Linked DNA regions of Homo sapiens. The protein of the gene in region 4 purifies or fractionates together with the protein of the main gene of each other region. This does not show direct contact. Each region holds a gene or a part of one and is shown on either strand. Other genes may lie near its edges. The genes, in order: SLX4, CHORDC1, HMGN5, C11orf58, WDR1 and KYNU.

Region 1 (3,665 bases), on a different chromosome or scaffold from region 4:
CAGGCGTGAGCCACTGTGCCCGGCGGAGGCCTGATTTTTTTTAAAAGAACATTTAACTCTCACATCCACATGACACTGCTCTTCCACTCGGGCACCCGGGGAAGCTGCTGCTGCCACCATCCCTCAGAACTGGGAGCAGCATATCTTTTGTTTATTTTTTATTTTTGGAGACAGGATCTCACTCTGTTGCCCAGGCTGGAGTAGAGTGATGTGATCTTGGCTCACTGTAGCCTCAGCCTCCCGGGCTTAAGCGATCCTACCTCATCCTCCCTAGTAGCTGGGACTACAGGTGACACCACCACGCCTGGCTAATTTTTGTATTTTTTGTAGAGGCGGGGTCTTGCTATGTTGCCCAGGCTGGCCTTGAACTCCTGAGCTCAAACTGTCCTCCTGCCTCAGCCTCCCAAAGTGCTGGGATTGTAGGCGTGAGCCATTGTGCCTGGCTGGCAATGTTTCTTTTGGAATATTCAGAGTAAGCTTAGTTGGCGCCTAGAATAGACACTAACCTCTGATGCTCACAGAAGTCAGGCATCTATGGTTTGTCACACAAGCCATTCGCTGAATGCATTGGGTATCACTCTTTGCTAAGATAGGGAACGTGGAGTGTGGACCAGCTGTGTGGGTGGGTCCTGAGATCCACCTGTTCCTCCGTCAGGTTTGGAGTCCGCCCTCTGCCTAAACGCCAGATGGTTCTGAAGCTGAAGGAGATATTCCAGTACACTCACCAGACCCTGGACTCAGACTCCGAGGACGAGAGCCAGTCCTCACAGCCGCTGTTGCAGGCGCCTCACTGCCAGACCCTCGCCTCCCAGACCTACAAGCCTTCAAGGGCAGGGGTCCATGCCCAGCAGGAGGCCACCACAGGACCTGGGGCCCATAGGCCCAAGGGACCTGCTAAGACCAAGGGCCCCCGACATCAAAGGAAGCATCATGAAAGCATCACACCCCCAAGCAGGTCGCCCACCAAGGAGGCACCTCCAGGCCTCAATGATGACGCCCAGATCCCAGCCTCTCAAGAATCCGTGGCCACCTCTGTGGATGGCAGTGACAGCTCCTTGAGCTCACAGAGGTAACCGGATGGATGCGATGGGGTCAGTGGCCTCATGTATCCTCTGGCCCGTGGGCGTGAGGGTTGGCACGAGTGAGACCTAATGGCCAATCTTCAAAAACCCCCGTCACCTTCTGGGTTTGACCTGTGGGAAAACCAGGTGGGTTTAGGGGGCTGGTTCCCTGACCCCAGCCCTGCGCAGGCCTCCTGGTTCCTGCCCCACATGCTAGACATTTCTGGCTGGGGCAGGATCCCGCTGGCGTAGCCTGCAGGGATCTCTCAGGCCCGTCCTGCCTTGCTGGGGATCGTGCCACAGGCCAGGCTCCATGGGACCCGTAGACACCTTCCTTCCTTTAAAGAGGCTCATGGTCTCAGGGGCTGGAGAGAAAGGGGTTGCACAACGTCCTGGTCTGGCTCTTTTCAGTTCTTCCTCCTGTGAGTTTGGAGCGGCATTTGAGTCTGCAGGTGAAGAGGAGGGCGAGGGGGAGGTCAGTGCCTCGCAGGCAGCCGTGCAGGCGGCGGACACAGACGAGGCGCTGAGGTGCTACATCCGCTCCAAGCCGGCCCTGTACCAGAAGGTGCTGCTGTACCAGCCCTTTGAGCTGCGGGAGCTGCAGGCAGAGCTGAGGCAGAACGGCCTCCGTGTGTCCTCGCGCAGGCTGTTGGACTTCCTGGACACCCACTGTATCACCTTCACCACTGCCGCCACCCGCAGGGAGAAGCTCCAGGGCAGGAGGCGGCAGCCTCGGGGCAAGAAGAAGGTGGAGCGGAACTGATGGGGCCATCCCGACCCCACCCCAACCTGCCATCAGCAGCCCCCACCCCCGCCATTTGCAGGGAGGACCTGGGACACCCAGCGTGGGTCAGGCCTCCACAGGCATTTCTGGGCCTGGGGACCACATCAGCTCTGCGCTGTGATGATGACCACAGCCCAATCCAGGGCTTCCTCCTCTGGGCTCTGCTTTCTAGGGTGGCATTTGGAGCATGTCACCCACTGGATTTACAGACTCCAGCCCCTTCCTCTGTCCGTGCTCACAGTGTGTCTCCCTTTTTGGTTTTCTTTTTTTTTTTCTTTTTGAGACAGTCGTGCTGTGTCACCTAGGCTGGAGTGCAGTGGCACAATCTCGGCTCACTGCAACCTCCGCCTCCCGGGTTCAAGCAATTCTCCTGCCTCAGCCTCCCAGATAGCTGGGACTACAGGCACACGCTGCCACGCCCAGCTGATTTTTTATATTTTAGTAGAAACGGGGTTTCACCATGTTGCTCAGGCTGGTCACAAACTCCAGAGCTCAGGCAATCCGCCTGCTGCGGCCTCCCAAAGTGCTGGGATCACAGGCGCCAGCCACTGCGCCCGGCCCAGTGTGTCTCCCTTAACCCAAGAGGGCCCTCAGCTGTCCCAGGGGGCAGTGGGCCATCACCAGCTGGCCAGGGCATGGCCTATTCTGCCACATTTGCCACCCTCTGAGCCCACCAGTCCTGGGCACAGCTGCCCTACATGTCTGTCCTGAGATGGACGTCAGGTCCAGCCTGCCCCGGCAGCCCGGGCCCGTCCTCCTCAGCACTCAGGCCAACCCCAGCCACCGCCAGCCTGAGACCAGGTGTCCTGAGGCTCCCTGCACTGCCACAGCCCAGATGCAGTTCTCCTGACCCAGCCGTGCTACCCGGACACTTGTCATTGTTACCAGCAGTCTCCAAACTGGACAGTGCACAAGGGCCCAGAACAACTCTGATGCCACCACAAAACAAACATGTTCACTAGCGGATTCCATTCTTTGGGTTAAAGCTGCCTCCAGCCTCAGGAGCAGTGTGGAGGAAGATGAGGGCCAGGAAAGAAGGAAACCTTGGTTTCTCCATCCTTGTGAATGTCCTCGTCTGTTTCAAATACAGTGCAGTCAGTTTTATATGATGTGCAATAAACCAAAAAGGCTTTATTAAAATCTGGCTGCCACACTCCAGGGAGACCACGAGCGAAACGGGGGACCTGGAGGCACCGTGGCCCCTCAGCCCGTGCCCCACGCCTGCAGAAGTCCCCACCTTGCACCTGCCCTTTACTTTGGAGTAACCTGGGCCTGCTGTCTCCTCATTTCAGTTCCCAGACCAGAGATGCAGATGTTCATCCATTAATCCACACACCCGTATCCAACAGAGCCCTGGCTGGGTGCCAAGCTCCAGCCCCCGCACCTCAAAGTGGGGCCCAAGCACCCCCAGCTGCTGCCTCAGCCGGGAGTTGCTACAAAAGCAGATTCAGGCCCCACCCCACAACTCACCAAGACAGCACATGCCTTTACCATTGCGTCCGGTCCAGTGGAGGAGACAGACGCTGGCCTATCCCAGCCTGGTGGGGAGTCGGGCTCCAGTGGCTTGAAGGGCCGTGTCAGGGACAGCCTCCCAGAAGAGGGGTTTGTGAGCTGCATCTTAGGGCTCAGCAGCATTTAGGGGGTGAAATGTGATTTCTGGCGCACATACTATGTCCTGGCACGTGAACCAGCGGAGAGGCCCAGGCCTCCCAGCTTACGGTGCCCGGGGCGAACAATTTGAGAGGCTGAGATCAGCTGTGATCAATCTGAGGCTGGCCTCTGGCCTGTTTCGGAAGGCATCACGCACTGCTTCCTTGATG
Region 2 (3,061 bases), about 73 Mb from region 4:
CAGTTTCTTAAAATAGCTTAATTCATTTTTGTCAGTCTTATTTTTATAATCAGTGTTTGATAGCATAAATCTTCAGTTTGAATTAGATCAATTAACTGTGTATATCTTTTTCAGTTAAATGTGCATATTGTATTTGAAGGAGAGAAGGAATTTGATCAAAATGTGAAATTATGGGGTGTAAGTATTACAAATTTATAAGAATTTTTTTTCTGATAACTTAGATCATTTGTAGAATAAAAGACAATTCTTCAGTAAACATTGATGCAAAGTATAGATGTATAACTTAACAGTGTATCCTACCAAAAAGTTTAAGACTAGATATAAAAGAGGCCTTTAGAAGCTTGGATTTGGGATTATTGGCATAAGCAAGTCTGATGTTTTCCTCTGAGACTAATAAAACTACTGAGGTTTCCTGTAATTCTCTTTGATATGTTACAGGTGATTGATGTAAAGCGAAGTTATGTAACTATGACTGCAACAAAGATTGAAATCACTATGAGAAAAGCTGAACCGATGCAGTGGGCAAGCCTTGAACTGCCTGCAGCTAAAAAGCAGGAAAAACAAAAAGATGCCACAACAGATTGAGTGGGAGATGGAAGGAAGGCTATTACATTATTTCCGAATTTTTAATACTGTGTGAAGTGGTGGCTTGCTGCTGTAATCTTTTGTTTTGTTGTTGTGTTACTGAATGTGGCATTTCAGGGTTAACATTAGGTTCTTAAAAGCCAAAGTCAGTTTGTCTTTTTGTGCCTCTCATCTTTCTTTTGTGTTATGTAAGATTGATTATTCATTTCTCCCTACTGGTAGGAACCATAGTTGTGTCCTATACTTGAAGAGGCTGGAAAGTAGCCCATAACCATAATTGCAGTATTTCTTTGTATTTCTCTGTTAAGCAAAGAAATATTAAGGAACATTTTTTTTATGTTTTTGTATTATTCCATAATTAGTAAAGCAAGATGAAATGTCAAATTTTAATCAGTTTTTTCATGGATTTGTGTTCTTACAGTACTTGAAAATATTTAAGGAAGAGATGAAGCTCTGCAGTTTTTTCTATGTGGGATGATTACTTTTTTAAGGAGGATTAATTCTGAGGTAGTATAGTAACTAAAGGGGAATATATGAATTGTTTAACAAATTAGAATTTGTTTACAACTACTTGAATTTTTAAATTATGTCAAAACTTACATTACTTGCCAAGCAGTATGATGTTATAGGAAACATAAATAAGATTACAGAGGTATCAATTTGGTTAAAATTCACCATTTTATAAGACTAAGCAATAATCTTAACAACCTCTTTCCTGAATATTTAAATGTGTTTGTATGGTGTTATGACTAATTGTTACTGATTTAGAGACTAAGCCCTCTTAAAACCTTTAGTTAAATATAAAAAGAAATTATATATATCTTGCCTCCCTGATGGAAAACTATATAAAATTGTAGACTTAAAAGGTTTGTGGAAATACATTAGGATATCAGAAAACTAAATATATGGAGTTGCTTTATGACTATTACATGTTAAATAAAAATAGCTTAATTGTTTTGGAGTTTTTTTTTAAAGTCATGAAGAGCTTCACAATTCTAGTGATACAATGTTGACTATATATTGTACTTTATATTAAATATAGGTAATACAGAATTAGATCGTTTGGATAGGTTTTGAGTTAGTGCAGAACTCAAGAAGAAAAATTAGGAAATATTCTGAAGGCCAGAACTCTGGAAGAACTTAGAAAGTTTGGGAATAAATTAAACTTATGTAGATTTAAAATTAAAAGGGGTTTATTTCCCAAACCCCTTGAGTCTTTTCTTTTCCTTGGTATTTATGGAATTCTTACAAAGAAAAATTTGCAGAAGTACTATTTTCGTGAATAAAACATATGTATCATTCTACTACCATTAGCAAATAACTTAGTTGTAGTTAATATAATTGTTAAAAGGTTTAGCTCTGTTACAAATAAAAACATAAAGATCTGGCAACCAGACTTTCATGATGTTACATTACCATGACAAGAAACTCTGGGCAGTAAAAGTTGGACCCACATGGAGTACATAAGCATCTGATACCTGGAGATGTATTTAAAATTTTTCAAGTTATCTTCCATGATTTAGGAACCATTTAGAGACATGAAGTCTTTATGGGTTGGGGGAAAGGTTGATAATTAGTTTGATTAAAGGTAATGATTAATATCCCTTTTTGTTCATACTTCCTTCTGAGGCTGTTTTCCCCTAAACAGTATCTTAATCTGTTACATGTAATTGAAATATTATTTGAAGCAGTGAGTTATTGTAACCTCAGATTAGTTACATTGATCAAAACATTGATTTATACACACACACACACACATACATATGTAGCTTTTATATTTAGTCTGGTTACATTAGTGACCATGGTATTTACTTTCTTCTTAAGGAGCCTTTGAATTTCTTGTCCAGATAAAAATCCGAATATTTCTCTTAGACTCATACATAAAGGGACACAGTTATCGTTAGGTAGCATATGTTTTACTATCGGTTTGTCAAAAAAGTTAATAAAAAGTGCTTATTGATTTATTTCTCTAGAAATTTGCTTTGTCTTTTTTAGCATTAAAAATAATTACTATAGCAAAGCAGTCAAAGTTAGGTATATTATATATATACTTGGTAACTAAAGATGGGAAACCTAAAATGCTATTTTTCTTTCATAGCACATTTACTAGTATAAAGGAAGTAAGATCCTAATAAACTGAGCCTTTATTTAACTTCTTTGACCTAGTTTTAGGTTTACAGAAAAGTTGTAAAAATACAACAGTTCTTTATGTCTTATATTAATCTTAATGTTAAAATCTTACGTTATCATAGAACATTTATAAAACTTAAGAAATTAACCTTTGTATAATACTATTAACTAAAGTAGAACATTTTATTTTTACCATCTGTTTTTAGTGGAATTCTTCAAGGTCTTAAGACTTGTCCTACTTTTTTGGTAATAATTTAAGCCAGTAATTTATAAACAATTAAGATATGATTAGGAATCAACAAATGTTTATAGGTTGAAGATGTAACTTCTTGGTGTAACTATACTG
Region 3 (3,500 bases), on a different chromosome or scaffold from region 4:
TCTTCTCCTTTCTCTTTTCCATCTTCTCCATTTCCTTTTCCGTCTTCACCTTTTTTTCCATCTTCTTTCTCTTTTGCATCTTCTCCTTTCTCATTTCCATTTTTATCCTCTTTTCCATCTTCTTCCCCTTTTTCATCTTTGTCTTCTTTTCCAGCTTCCCCTTTCTCTTCGTTTTGATCTTCTTCATCTTCTTTCTGATCTTCTTCTTCATTTTTTACTTCTGCTGCCACTGCTTCTTTCTTTTCTCCTCCCTTTTCTGTGGCATCTTCAATATTTTCTTCTTTTACTTCCACAATTTCTTTTTCAGAAGCTGGTGCCTGTAAGTATAGTGAAAAGAAAAACAAGATTCTGTCTGTAAATTTAGAACCATTTCCCCTAAATATTTACACTGGATTATATCTATTTCACAGAAAGACTAATACTTCATTTAAAGAAAGTAATTTTCCTGTGAAAGAAGCCTGCTAAATATCACATTATGAGAAAACATTCTAAGAAATGAGATTAACTAAAATATGTCCACGGAAATATCTACAAATAGATATTTGAAACAATAAATACAGAAACACTTATAAATACTTTTTATTTCAAATATGAAGAAGCACAAAGTAAATACTTAAAGGATGACATATATTTATTCTGTATCAGCAATTCTTAATGAGGACTATGCATGTAAACAAAATATAGTCCTTGGAAAATAACATATTTTGTTTCTATAATAATGATATTTTTTATGTAAAAATTACTTGAAAAGTACTGTACCAGATATTATAAGATAACTTACAAAAGATTTTCCATATTTGCATATGTTTGGTTTATAGATTTGGTGGCTACACCCATTTTCAGTGTTTTATTACAATACCTAAAAATGTTGTATGCATTAAATATGCAAAATAAGATTAAAAACATTTATATAATGATTTGCTTTGCCATCCACAGAGGAAATAAAAGAATCATAAATTCTGGAAAAGGGATTTACAAATAGCCTGTGTGCTGATAAAAGGAATAAAGATTGGCTTGTATTTAATAAGAAGGTTGTTATGTTAGTACTAAGTCATAATCATTGGCATTGTTCTAGTAACAGCAATGCTAAGCCACTGCTCGCACTACTGGTCCCTCTAAATTCTCATATTTTAAGTTAATTTTATTTTCCTCTTAGATACCATTATACTATAGAACCACTGCTCACTTAATTTTTTTCCAACTTATAAACTAAAAGGCAAATAGGATTTCTTTCAGTTGTACCCATTGTTAAACTTTCAAATAGATAAAACTGTTAACATTAGAAAATACCTCTGTAATTTTGGCTTCTCCATTTTTAGCATTTTCATTGTAGTCTTCTTCAACAACTGCTTCTTGCTTGGTTTCAGCAACTGCTTGGGCACTTGTATCTATGTTTTCTTCCATCATATCACTTTTTGTCTTCATTTTCTGCCAAGCAATATAAAACAATGAAAGTAAATATACAATTTAACTGCTGTGTTGATTAAATGGTCACAATTATTTTACCAGCTGTTGTAATAATTTATGCAAACTCTTTAAAGTATCACATATAAATCTGGTATCAACAAAATTATCATATAATATCTTCATTGTAAATTTCATTGTAAGCCTAAAGCAGGATTAAAAATGAACAATGTTCCCTTGATATAAACAAAATAAATTTCCTTTTAAGTTGAGTGATATAGATGAGAGGCAACCAGTTAGAATGCTGACTAGTTGCTGCCAAGGACAAACTGCTGGCATCAGGTTAGACTGATCAATTAATTCCCTCTGTCTAGAGAGGGTCAGTTTATTTCTGTCAAGTCTAATTAATAAGGAACAGGGTTTTGTTGATCGTTACGCCTCCATTGGTAATAATTAAGAGAAATGCTGTTAGTGAGAACAACAATTTAGATATATTTTTAAAAGACCTTATGGTGATGTAAGTGTTTCAATCTTTGTATCTACAAGTTTGGAATGCCCTGATTCATGACGACTTCACCAAGAAAATTTTTGCCTACCTGTGTATGTAATAGAAAGACCACTGGATTGAGGGGCCGGAAAACCTGTGTTTGAATTCTAGATCTGCCACTTATGTGATGTGATCTTGAGCAAAGGCATAAGTATCTTTGAGGCTGTTATTTTCATATATAAAAAGAGAGTAATACCACCCACCTCACGGGGATGTTACAAGGAGAAAATGAGAAAACACATGAAAAAAATGCTTTAGAAACTGTAATTTGTAATTTAGATATAAGTTATTACTCTTTTAACACATGAGAAACAGAGCCAAGGAGGGTAAAGTCTATGGTTATATAGTATATGTTTTAGTCTAGCCCTATTTTTCTTTTCTTTTCTTTTTTTTCCGTTTTTTTTTTTTTTTTTGAGACAGGGACTCCCTCTGTCGCCCAGGCTGGAGTGAGGCAATCTCTGCTCACTGCAACCTCCTCCTCCCAGGCTCAAGCAATCCTCCCACAACAGCCTCCCAAGCAGCTGGGACTACAGGCATGCCCGGCTAATTTTTGTATTTTCTGTGGTGATGGTGATTTTCTATGTTGCCCAGGCTGGTCTCAAACTCCTACGTTCAAGCAATCTGCCCATCTCAACCTTCCAGAGTACTCAGATTACAGGTGTAAGCCACCACGTCTGGCCTTACTTTTCTTTTTAAAAGAAAATATGCTGTATTTACTGTTTTAAAAACTAGTAAGTTGAATATTTAACCTTATATAATAGTGGACTTGAAAAGTAAAATGCAGAAAAAAAAACCTTCTTTTCTTTTGTCACCATTAAATATATCAATTATTACTAAAACTTCAATTTCCCTAAGTTTAGCAATATTTTTTAATAAAGGATTTCATTTATGAACATAATGACAGTTTATACTTTCTTCAACTACAAAGTGATAGGATTAGATGCTCTCTAATGTTTCTCATAGCTTTAACCTTTTATGATTTCAGGAATTCAATCAATATTCTTATGTATTAAGCAATTAGCAGTAAACTAAATATTGAGATTATATCTATTTCTACATGCCTTTAGCCATAACACCAGAGTATATAAGTCCATACAAAATCAATTGTGTCCATTTAAAATTAACATATGCAAATACATCTTACATATATTATATATATAATTATATATAATCTTATATACTTTGCCAACTGTAAAATATTATCAAATGTTAGTTACTACTTTTATTACAAAGCACAACTTTGGGGTTACTACTGTTTTCACCTTTTGTTTTCCCAGGGAAACAGTATTGTCACTATATGATAGCAAAGGCATGTACATTTAATGGGCCTATCCAACTGAAATTGTTTTGTCTCTACCCAGTGAAAATGTCAAAACACTGTGGACAATCACAAAACAGAACAAATAATCCCCACCCAAGGGGTTTACATGTATCATATGATAGAATATAATATATTACTAACTGAACAAAATATAAGCAAAGTAAAATGATCAGCTGTATGCCATTTCAAAAATTATTTTTGAAAAAAAAAGCAAATTTATTTCAATAT
Region 4 (4,240 bases):
TAGTAGAGACGTGGTTTCACCATGTTGATCAGGCTGGTCTCGAACTCCTGACCTCGTGATCCACCCGCCTCAGCCTCCCAAAATGCTGGGGATTACAGGCCTGAGCCATGGCGCCAGGCCTAATTTTTGCTTAAAAAAAAAAAAAATCACATTTGTATTCAAGGTGAGAAAGCTTCAGAATTATTAAGGACAAGGATTCTGACAGAAAGTTAAGTTCAGACCTGGTTACAAATTCAGACACCTTAATAAAGTAGGAGATAGTCTTCAGTATCTGAACAATAAATAGCTTTAAATGCAGGGCTTTTTGAGTAGAGGAGTGATCACTTGAATCTGGAGAGAGGGCGAGAAATGGGGAGGGATTGCTAACGGGCATTGGGGTTCCTTTTGGAGTGGTGAAACTTCTTGGAATCAGAGGTGACAGCTGCACACGATTGTGAATGTACTAAGTGACAGTGGATTGTACACTTTTTAAAAAATGGTTAATTTTATATGTGAATTTAACCTCAATAATTACTTTTTTTAAAAAAGAAAAAAAATAGAGGCTTTTGTGGCAGGGATGGACTTTGCTTGGTGAAGGCCCCTACTGTAACGGTGCCCAGACATCCACAGCGAGGTCAGTGAGGAGCACTCCCACCTCACACAAAGCCATATGAAAACTTAACAGATTTCCCTCAGCTAAATCCCCGTTTTCAACAACCGCCAATTAGCCAACATTTAACAACATACTGAACTCATTTCTGTATGGGAAAACAGCGAAATATTCATGAAAACATTTAGAAAGCAGCATCACCGACCACCTAGAAATCCCCTGCGCGCAATAGAGAACACCAGGGTGGAAATGGTAGAAGCCATTTTTGGTTAAGGTTTTTGTCCTGGGTGGAGGGTATTCGTGAGGATTCAGTCAGCCTCAAACATTACATTTAAACATAGGTGCCTAGCTACGATGATACATTTGCCAGTAGGGCAGCGTTGCACGGTGAAAGGCAAAAACCCCTCTAAGCCTCCTCCTGTGGCGACAAAGCTCTCGGCCAACGCTCACCGCCATACACATCCGCGGGAACGCTTCCTCCACCAGCCGAAGGCGGGGCCTCTGAGGGCACTCCCGCCACACAGCGCGAATTGAGCCTCGGGGCTTCCTGGGAATTGTAGTTTTAGTCACGGACACATCTTTTTTATTCGGGCCAGTATGCAATGAATCAGAAAACTACAACTCCCAAAGTGCCCCGGGGCGGCGAGGGGCCGCAACGGTGACGACTGTGGCAGAGAAGGCCCGGAGGGGCTCTGCGTTCTGTAGTGGCGCTGCTTGGGCCCTTGGCGGATTGTAAGCTGCTGGTTTTGCGGCTGGGAAGAGCGGCGAGAGGGTTCGGCATTTTTCGTCGGGATCCCCGCAAGGATGAGTGCTGCCAGAGAGTCTCACCCGCATGGGGTGAAGCGTTCAGCCTCCCCAGACGACGATGTAAATAATAATGGCGGAGTGGCTGAGGGTTGAGGCCTACTAAAGCCTGGAGTAGGCCGGGAAGGGTGGTTGGAGGAGGACGCGCCTGAGGTGGCCTGCAGCGGGAGAGCCCAGGGAAGAAACCAGAAGAATGAGTGGGAAATGCCTCCCTTAATCTTTATGAGGGTCAGAAGGTTTGAAGAGGCCCACACGCTGAGAGCCGGAGACCTGCGTAGGAAGGGGGATTGAGGAAGGAAATTCTGAGAGGGTCGAGGAGTGAAAGAGCTTAGTCAAGGGATTTCGTACGTGCGTTTTGGGGGGCCGATGAGAGTGCTTTCTCGGGCCTTTGTACTCAGTATAGAGACGGCAAGACTCTCCCTGTTTTGGGTTCTAAATGTTCCCGTGACAATGTCGAAATGTTCGTGCACGTTTGTACAGATTTTTCCTGCCTGGATGATTTTTACAATGTGCTGTTGAGAGTTAACTTTAGCTGCACTAGTAAGGGTAAACCGAGAACAGTATTGAGCCGAAAATTGTGCCACGGGTGTAATTTGGTACTGGCTCTGGTGGTGAGGTCTAAGACGTTGAGACCTAGAAGCCCATTTTGATGTCGGATATTAATACCTCGTTCTTCTTACCTCGTCTCCCCATCAAATGCCGTTCCCTTCCTCAGCCCTCACCTCATAGGTTTTAATAGCAAACGGTTTATCCCTTAAAGTAACCCGTTAAATATTTACTGCACTGCCGGGTGTTGGGAATTCGGAGAGAAATATGATGCTTATTTTAGGCCTTTTTGTATATTTGTCCTAGCTCCTAGCCCAGTGTCATGGAAACGGTAGGTAACCAGTAAACGTAAAACTAGGTCCTTCATACAATGGATAAGTGTCTTGGCAACGTTGATGGGGAAAATTGTTGGAGAGAGCGCGGAGAGGTCATCTTTAAGGAAGATGAAGGGATATCTAGGTTTTTTTTCGGTTTTGTTTAAAGTACTGTCAATTTCTGAATACATAGAGCTTTAAATTTTTCGATAGTGCATTTCAACGCTCTTCATAAAATTTTAAAAGCCCACTGAATACTACTTTGTAGCAAATGAGATAATGTTAAGACCTACCCCTCTGATGGGAGGTGGGGCGAGGACCGGAATATTAAGGATCTTTAAAGGAATCGACTTCAGCTCTGCAGAAAGATTAGCAATCAGTAAAGATTTGGGGATGAATGGGCACCTAGAGAAGTTTATTCTTGCTCTCTGTTATTTCTGCTACTGGATTTTAGATCTTGTTAATATGGTAATTCAGGTTTTGTCAGGAATTGATCCACACTTTTGAGTAACCTGGCTGCCACTTAAAAAGCTGTTACATTGTTTTCCTCCTGATCTTTAAATGTGACTTGATTGCTAGGATATCAGACACCTGTTTGGAAATATCTTTTAGCGTGACAGAAAACTCCAGGTGATATGAAATTTAACAAAGTTAAAGGGATTAAGTCATTAAGTTTACAGCTTCGGAAGAGGTCGGTTTAAACTAGACGACCTTGAAGACCTTTCCCAATCATATAAGCGTATCTTTAAGTACCTGGGTTTTGTTTTTGTTTTGAGACAGGTGAGACAGGGTCTCTGTCGCCCAGGCTGGAGTGCAGTGGCACGATCGATCAGTGCTCCCTGCAGCCTCCACCTCCCTGGCTCAGGTGATCCTCCTGCTTCAACCCCCTCTTCCCCCACCACCACTACAGTAGCTCGGACTACAGGTGTGCACCATTACACCCGACTAATTTTTTGTATTTTTAGTAGAGACCAGATTTTGCCACATTGCCCAGGCTGGTCTCCAACTACTAGACCCAAGCGATCTGCCCACCTCGGCCTCCCAAAGTGCTGGAATTACAGGTGTGAGCCACCTCGCCCAGCCAGTACTTAAAAAAAAAATTTTTTTAACCATAAGTAATGCATTCATTAAAATACCTCCAAGCTGTTGCAGAAAAAAAAAAAAAAACTAGCAGGCCGGGCGCGGTGGCTCACTCCTGTAATCCCAACACTTTGGGAGGCCAAGGCAGGCGGATCACGAGGTCAGGAGATCCAAACCATCCTGGCTAACACAGTGAAACCCCGCCTCTACTAAAAAAATACAAAAAAATTAACCGGGCGTGGTAGCGGGCGCCTGTAGTCCCAGCTACTAGGGAGGCTGAGGCAGGAGAATGGCGTGAACCCGGGAGGCGGAGCTTGCAGTGAGCCAAGATGGCGCCACTGCACTCCAGCCTGGGCGACAGAGCGAGACTCTGTTTAAAAAAAAAAAAAAAAAAATCTAGTTATAATATATAGTTGGGAAACAGTTTCTAATGAGCATCCACGGTATGTGAGAGATCATTGAAGTTTTCTTATGCCCATTGACCTCACATCTAATTGAGGTAACAAAACATTTTTTTACTATTAAAAGTAGATACTAAATCACAATACAACTCTAGAAAAACGCTAACAATGTAGGAGTAAATTCTAAGAGTCACCAGGTTATGTATTGAGGAGGTAAATTGATTGCAGTTCTGTAGTAAAGGGTATTAAGGATGAAAACAACTTAAAAGTCGTTTCATTGGCTTGGAGTGGAGAAATGAAAGCTATCTTATAGGAAGTGGGAAGAGTGGGGAGGTAAATTTTAGTAACTGCTAAGGAACTCTCTTAAAATGTATAGTGCACCCACGTGCTTTTCAGAATGCAGCATTTGGGCAAGTACTCACTGTTGTACTTTAAGGCAGGGCTCTCCAACCCCTGGGCCACAGAACCAGGCTGCACAGCAGGACGTGAGCTGTGGGCCAGCCAGC
Region 5 (2,682 bases), on a different chromosome or scaffold from region 4:
AACCCCGGCTACGAGCCCGAAGTTGTGGCAGTGCACCCCGGCGGGGACACGGTGGCAATTGGGGGTGTGGTAAGTCGCTTTCCTCTCCCCCGTGCTCTCTGTCCTTGGTATCTGGGTGATTTGGGGACAGTGTGAGCTGTGTGAGTACCGGGGCTGTCTCAGGGAAGGCGAGGGGTCAGGGGAAGGATGGGGGCAGTCGGGGCGTGGGACCTGCTCTGGGGCCCAGCCACGCCATCTCCTGCCACCCAGGGCTGGAGCCTTCCCCTCCCCTCCTCGGCACTTCCCCCACCTCACTGCCCGGGTGCCCACAAGACTGTGGACAGTGAGGTAGAGGGAGTGCCGAGGAGGGCACAGCTGTGCCTCAGAGCCAGCCCCATGAGTGGCGGCAGGAGGGGAGCGCAAGAGGGTAGCAGGTCAGGAAATCAAGGAATGGCATCCCCTGGGGCTGGGCTCGGCTCACAGGTTGAAGGAAGAGTGACAGAAGTTTCCCAGCATCTTCAAGGTGCGGTACTAACCAGACATTTTACAGTTTCCCTTGAGTTCTGCCTCGGCATAATTCTCATGCCCTTGAATTTGTGTGTGTGGTCTGGTCACAGTGTGCCTGGCCAAGTCCTGAGTGCTCTGTAGAAGAGCTCATTTCCCCTCTCCAGCCCAGGAGGGCAGCCCTCTGATAACCCAGTCCTGCAGCAGGCGTGGCAGTGCCCTCCATGCTAGGGGCTGGGTGGGTCTATGTGCTGCCAGGTCCTTCAGGTGCCGGATGTGACCAGGGCATGGAGTGGCTTCCTCCACCAGCCAGCTTGAGGGCCTCATGAGACCAGCGGTGCCCCGAGGTACCAACAGCTGTTTTCATAGAGCTGCGTAGGTTTCAGGCCCATCCACGGGAAGAGCCATGCCCAGCTCCTGGCATGGGCCCAGCAGAGCAGCAGTCAGTGGGAACGGCACAGTTTCTTAAGCCCTCGACCCCCCCTTCACAAAGGATGGGTGTGGTGTGTGTGTTCAGGGGTGGCTCACTTCCTCTCTGTCCCTGCCGTAGGACGGCAACGTCCGCCTGTATTCCATCCTGGGCACCACGCTGAAGGATGAGGGCAAGCTCCTAGAGGCCAAGGGCCCCGTGACCGACGTGGCCTACTCCCACGACGGCGCCTTCCTCGCGGTGTGCGACGCCAGCAAGGTGGTCACAGTGTTCAGCGTTGCTGACGGCTACTCGGTGAGTGGCGGCGGGCTCCTCCTCTGTCCCCGTGCTGGGCGGTGCAGGTGGCAGTGGGAGGTTATCTGTGACTTGGTGACCTTGAGCTGAGCCTGTCTGAGCTGTAGTTTTCTTGCCTCTACAAGTAGCAGGTGCCTCGTGCCATGCTTCTGAGGAGTCAGTGGGTTTGCAGGGGTCGCTGGCATAGAGTTAGCGCGTGAGAAACCTCGGTCCTTATTGTCGCCATGAGGGATAAGCGAGGTGATATGGGCAACTGCGGCCTGAACCTGACCTGCCACCTCTCTTGTTTTCAACCTGCAACTAGGAGAACAATGTTTTTTATGGACACCATGCAAAAATCGTCTGCCTGGCCTGGTCCCCAGACAATGAACACTTTGCCTCCGGTGGCATGGACATGATGGTGTATGTTTGGACCCTGAGTGACCCGGAAACCAGAGTCAAGATCCAAGGTGACTTCCGCCCCCAGGCCTTGGCAGGGACCACCCATGGTTCGGGGCTCCATGGGCCACCTCACAGGCTGTCCCCTGGCTTCAGTCCCCAGGGCTAAGTAGCCTCTGTGCTTCTAGACAGGTGGCCCGGAAGAGTTGTGGGTCTCCTTCCATCCAGCAAACACCAGCTGCGCTGCTGGCCGTACTGAGGGACCACGGGGGCCCCATGCACAGGACACCTGCTGAGCTGAGTGAAGGCCTCACTTTTGACATCTTCACTTCCCCCACTCACCCCTTAAATCCCACCTGGGACCAGGGTCTCCCCCTCCCTAAGACAGCCACGTCCAGTGTATAATGTGAGCCTCATGTGGCGTTGAAATTTCCTGGTAGCCACATTTAAAAAAGAAACAGGTGAAATGATTTGTAACAGTAGGTTTTATTTAGCCCCGCATGTCATCATTTCTCCCTGAGGGGGTTGTGATGTCCCCGCGTGGCCATGCACGTATTGTAAGGCAGCTCTGTGTTGTCCAAACCCTCCCCTCCCCGAGTGCCCCCCTACCACTCTCCTCCTAGTGTGTAGTCAAGTCCCCTCATCCATTCTCCTTGAAGACATCCTTTTGTGTTAAACATTAATGGGGCCCTTTCCTATTTAAAAATGTCTGAGCCCACCCCCAGAGCCCATTCCCCAGCTGCAGGCTTCAGGTGCAGGACAGGCAAAGAGGGAAGGCAGCCCGGTCTGGAAGGGAGGAGAGACAAAGCAGGTTTCAACGTCCGTCCTGGTTTATAAGGCAATCGCCAGTCTGGTAGTGAGAATCAAACAAGTTCATGAATGAAATGGATCCAGAAAAAAATACAGCAAGAGCTAGTCAGATAGAGATTAGGAGGTCGGGGTCTGTGTCTTCACTGTGAGGTCACAGGCCACCAAACATGAAGTGACCTCAGCATCGGGTTCTCGTGCAGATAGTTGAGTTCTGCATCTGGAAAAGAGCCAGCCTGGTGATGTGGACAGAGTGCTAAAGCCTGGCCTCACAGCCAAGTCATGCTTGG
Region 6 (4,287 bases), on a different chromosome or scaffold from region 4:
GACTCATTTTTCAAAGTAAAACAGAACCACTGATTGTTAAAGCATGAAAAGCATGAAGTGATTCCAGCAGCAAGTAAGAGTCACTTAGTTACACAATGGCAAGGGATTGAACAGCTATGTCTCCTGAAAAGGTGACAAGACAAGCCCATCTTGCAAGTCACTGAATCCTTCATGCAACATGCTATGTGCAAGTCTCCAGGGGACCCATCTTCTTGGCTATTCCTAAAATTCCATGAGATGTTTTTCTGCCTTACTATCAGATTAGTCTTACTACAAACATATTACTGATGGTAGCTGGACTGAGTTGCTGTTCTACCCTACTGAACTGAACTCTACCTGGGGGCCTGAATCATGTTTAATTTATCTTTATAGACATCTCATTTAGACAGAGTACCCCTGCCGCCAAAGTGGCAGTTCGAGAGAATAAACAAAATTGGTTGATGAATTATTTGACATAATGACATATTACTAGAAGGGCACCCTCTCTCATTCTGACCATATGAGAAAGACTTAGACAAACATTTCTAATGAAATTCAGAATCAAGAGAGCTTGCCTTATATTTGAGACTTTCTTTGGGAGGTCAGCCCTTTGAGTTGATTGGAGGTGACTTTAAACTCTAAGTGGGGTTACTTAAATAAAGAGATTAGTTTGTTACCAACAGATTCTGAATAAAATTCAACTTTCCTTATTTTAAAAATGATACTCATTAGCGTCATTCTATCTGTATCTTATTTAATGCTTGTAATAATCCTGAGGCATCAGAATCCTTTTCCTCTATATTGAGATGAAAACCTGGCACAGACAGAGTAGAAACCAGTGGACTAAAAGGATAGCAGAGTGCACAGTAGGGTACTTAACCATGCCTGAGATGCTGAGTCCATTGTGCTGGTCTTTGGCAAAGCCCATGAATGGAATGCACAGAGCTCAATTCCTCCTCGAAGCCTTGAACCTCTCACTTTATTTTTCCTTGCCTGTTGCTTCCTGATGTGTGTGTGTACGTGTGTGTATTTCTTCAGCTCATTCCCTTTTTCTTTGGCTTCTTTTTTCAGTCCTACACTTAAGCTGCAAAGGACCACAAGCTACGTATGAATTGATTTACCTTTTTAATCCATCCTTCCCAGTCCAGTTTCAGCCAGGCAAAAGTTAAAGTGGCTGGTTCCGCTCCTGGGCCTGTCACATCTGGGGTACCTTGAGATACCTGATGGGCATAGTCTTCCAAATGACTGCACCCTGCCCTACTCCACCACTTGCACAACTTCGCATGGTCTCAAATATAGTCTTTAGTTCCCAGAATAGCATAGTGCACTCACTCTAAGGATGCAATTTATTCACTCATACTAATTGCTGCTTAATTCTGCATTCACCCCAGCAGCTAAGACAATTAGTGTTCACAAGCCATAATGTTATGCCATGTTTAGTTTGCAAATAAAGTGACATGCTCATATTCTGAAAGGAAGAACTTAAATCCAAACTTTTAAAAACTTCAACTTTTACATATTTTACAAATTTTCAAATGTTACATATTTAGTGTTAATTTTATCAAGACGGGGGACATACATACCATATGGTCTCAGACAAATCACCTAACTGCTCTGTATGTCAATGTTATTTAAAGTTAAATTTTACTTTCTTCAAAGGATTATGGTTAAGCTCAAATGACATTAGGTCCTTTATAAAAAGATAAAAGATAGTTTGTAATATTTTTTTAAATTATCAATACCTTCTGATGGACAGCATCAATGTGCCTTCGATTTAGGTTTGGAAATTGTGCTTTCACAATTTTATTTAGACAGCTACAACTTTAAAGTAAAAAGCTTGTATAATAATTAAAAACTGATTGATTTTAACGAAATCACAGAATTCAGAATCTCCTAGTCACCCACTGATTTAGGGCTAAATAGTTAAATAAATGACTGAGTGTCTGGTAGTTAATCTTTACACAGTTTCACATTCATGCCTGAAATAAGCAAATTGTACATAGGAGTTCAAAGTTTAGAACCTGACTTAAAAATATGTTGAGAAAGCGTGTAGTTTTTCATTAGTAAAGAAAAAAGGAAAAACAATATGCATATTGAGCAAGATTCTTTAAGCATATCATTGAGAAATGGGTAACATTACTCTGCTACGAGTGTATATTTCATATCTAGGATATGAATTACTTGCTGAACACGTTAAGAAAATCAATACATTTGCTTCAGTGTTACTACTAAATAACACCCCACTGGCCTCAAAATAAAAGCAGAAAGGAAAAAAGAAAATCTAGTATATTTTTAAAAAGTGTATCAACTTTCTTTTCTTAGGTTTCATAAAATGAAAGGGGAAGAAACTCTGTTCAAGAGTAGGCATTTTCACTTCTCTAAATAAATATTTAATATGACTACTAGCAGCATAAGACAATTAAAGTTACCAGAAAACAGAGGACTTAAAATCTGTTTAAGAATATCTTTCCCTCGTCTGGAGTTTGACCTAATCTTACCGCTTAAACTCAAATAAGAACAGGACTAACTTTGGTTTGTCAAATGTAACCATATTCAGTGCACTATGTTCATCAGTTCTTTTCTATTACATTAGTAAAGATCTTTTCATTTAACCCATTTCTAAAGGTGGGGCCTTTAGGAAGGTCATACCATTTTTATTTACAAAAAGAATATATATAAAAAAAGAAGAGAGTAGCAGAAAAAAACCTCTAAAACACTATGACAAGGATTCTAGCTGACAGAAGTTTCATTTGGAAAAAACATGGAGTAAACATTAGGGTAGAGAGTTTTTATCAGCGCCTCAAGCTTACCAGCTAGGATCCCAATGGAGTGTTTGGCTCCCAGAATCTCTCCAAGAACCTCTCAAGAATTCCTTGAAAATGTACAGGCCAGATCTTAGGGTGAGAAATTCAAAGAACTGCTCAGACTCCACCCAGTGGAGAATTTATAAATATTTTACTTTACTTCCTCTCCCCTAACCAATCGGTAATCTCCAGCCACTGTCAGAAATTTAAGCAACATGTGCTCCTGCCCACCATTTCAAATGCCAGAGCCTCCAGTGAGGGCTTCTTTCCAGAGGCAACTTTGCTCTTTAAACTCAGGTAAACACACACTTGTCCTTTAACTATATAAATCTCTGACCCCTGAACTGATGAGTTGGTCTTAGAGCTAAATTCCAAATTTTGCCTTTCTTCTTCACTTTGAGCTCTGGATTTTTGAGACAATACCCTCCTTCAAATACACTGAGGATTTTCAGTCTGATGGTTGAATCTATGACATTTAATGGGTAAACTTTTTAGTCAAAAGTTTAAAATAGGCTCTCAATTCCAGAATACACTCTATTGCCTAATATGTGAGTTTTCAAAAACTCCTAGGTAATAAATCTGGACAGTTAACAAGACAATGAAGGAAGAAAGATCTGAAGATTCAAGTGGAAACTAGCCTGGCAAACTTCATTAATGCAAATTATTCATTTAAGTCTGTGAATTGTCTTTTGTTCTAGTCTGACTACCTCTTTAGGCTTATTCCTGAGCTTGGGTCTTTTGATGAATATCCTTGTAGTTATAAAAACTAAGAGCAAAGACTTTCGATATTAGGACTAGGGATGAAGAATGTGCTTGAATAATTGAATGACTTATGCACACCTATGCTTTATTTAGTAACCCACAACAAATCAAGTAAAGTGTCATTTAATCATTTCTATCAAGTGTTCATTGTATAACCCTGAGCAATTCACTTAACCCTTGTGGAGGCTCAGTCTCCTATTTATCAAATGAACTTAATAATACCTTCCTCCCAAGATTACTGAAACGATAAAACCATGCAGGTTGAAGGCCATAGATACCATGACACTCAAGTCAAAAGTGACATATTGTCTTTTTTTTAATCTTAAGTAACCAGACAAAAAGTACTACTCTCCAGTTTCCAAGAGAGGGAGATAAAGTGCATGAAATTGCTTTAATACGAGTAATTGACCAGTGAAAATAAAATATATTTCACTTCATTGATCCTATCCTTACAATAATCCTATAAAGTAAGTAGACTACCAATTGATTAACTTAGAATAGTAAAAGTTTGAATCCATTCAGGAAATTTCAGAAGGTGTACTTTTTTTGCATCTATTCTGTGTATGCCTCATGCTGTAAAAACTTTGGAAGATTACCAGGCTCTAATATATGGGGAGCGAACCAGAGGGCGGATCTGTGTCATTTTTGTGTCACTCTTTTAAAGACTGACTATAGATTTAGAGAGCTAGATATGGACATTAAGGTTTTGTTTTCACAAGATCTTGCTTCTTCTAAAATCTTG

Evidence for each region.
Region 1: the proteins of C11orf58 (region 4) and SLX4 purify together in Homo sapiens (co-immunoprecipitation; one large-scale study listed by IntAct). This does not show direct contact.
Region 2: the proteins of C11orf58 (region 4) and CHORDC1 fractionate together in Homo sapiens (co-fractionation; one large-scale study listed by BioGRID). This does not show direct contact.
Region 3: the proteins of C11orf58 (region 4) and HMGN5 fractionate together in Homo sapiens (co-fractionation; one large-scale study listed by BioGRID). This does not show direct contact.
Region 5: the proteins of C11orf58 (region 4) and WDR1 fractionate together in Homo sapiens (co-fractionation; one large-scale study listed by BioGRID). This does not show direct contact.
Region 6: the proteins of C11orf58 (region 4) and KYNU fractionate together in Homo sapiens (co-fractionation; one large-scale study listed by BioGRID). This does not show direct contact.

What each region holds. Positions count from the first base shown.
Region 1 is NC_000016.10:3,580,501-3,584,165, reverse strand, and holds the end of SLX4 (structure-specific endonuclease subunit SLX4), read left to right. Parts: intron 1-655; coding exon 656-1,069; intron 1,070-1,472; coding exon 1,473-1,824; 3' UTR 1,825-2,985; downstream 2,986-3,665. UniProt on the Homo sapiens protein: Regulatory subunit that interacts with and increases the activity of different structure-specific endonucleases.
Region 2 is NC_000011.10:90,199,929-90,202,989, reverse strand, and holds the end of CHORDC1 (cysteine and histidine-rich domain-containing protein 1), read left to right. Parts: intron 1-114; coding exon 115-177; intron 178-438; coding exon 439-585; 3' UTR 586-2,561; downstream 2,562-3,061. UniProt on the Homo sapiens protein: Regulates centrosome duplication, probably by inhibiting the kinase activity of ROCK2. Proposed to act as co-chaperone for HSP90. May play a role in the regulation of NOD1 via a HSP90 chaperone complex. In vitro, has intrinsic chaperone activity.
Region 3 is NC_000023.11:81,114,914-81,118,413, forward strand, and holds part of HMGN5 (high mobility group nucleosome-binding domain-containing protein 5), read right to left. Parts: intron 1,429-3,500; coding exon 1,291-1,428; intron 318-1,290; coding exon 1-317. UniProt on the Homo sapiens protein: Preferentially binds to euchromatin and modulates cellular transcription by counteracting linker histone-mediated chromatin compaction.
Region 4 is NC_000011.10:16,737,386-16,741,625, forward strand, and holds the start of C11orf58 (small acidic protein), read left to right. Parts: upstream 1-1,261; 5' UTR 1,262-1,393; coding exon 1,394-1,456; intron 1,457-2,170; exon of another isoform or gene 2,171-4,240.
Region 5 is NC_000004.12:10,076,278-10,078,959, reverse strand, and holds part of WDR1 (WD repeat-containing protein 1), read left to right. Parts: coding exon 1-69; intron 70-267; exon of another isoform or gene 268-349; intron 350-1,033; coding exon 1,034-1,207; intron 1,208-1,511; coding exon 1,512-1,656; intron 1,657-2,682.
Region 6 is NC_000002.12:142,876,239-142,880,525, reverse strand, and holds the start of KYNU (kynureninase), read right to left. Parts: upstream 2,863-4,287; 5' UTR 2,790-2,862; intron 1-2,789. UniProt on the Homo sapiens protein: Catalyzes the cleavage of L-kynurenine (L-Kyn) and L-3-hydroxykynurenine (L-3OHKyn) into anthranilic acid (AA) and 3-hydroxyanthranilic acid (3-OHAA), respectively. Has a preference for the L-3-hydroxy form. Also has cysteine-conjugate-beta-lyase activity.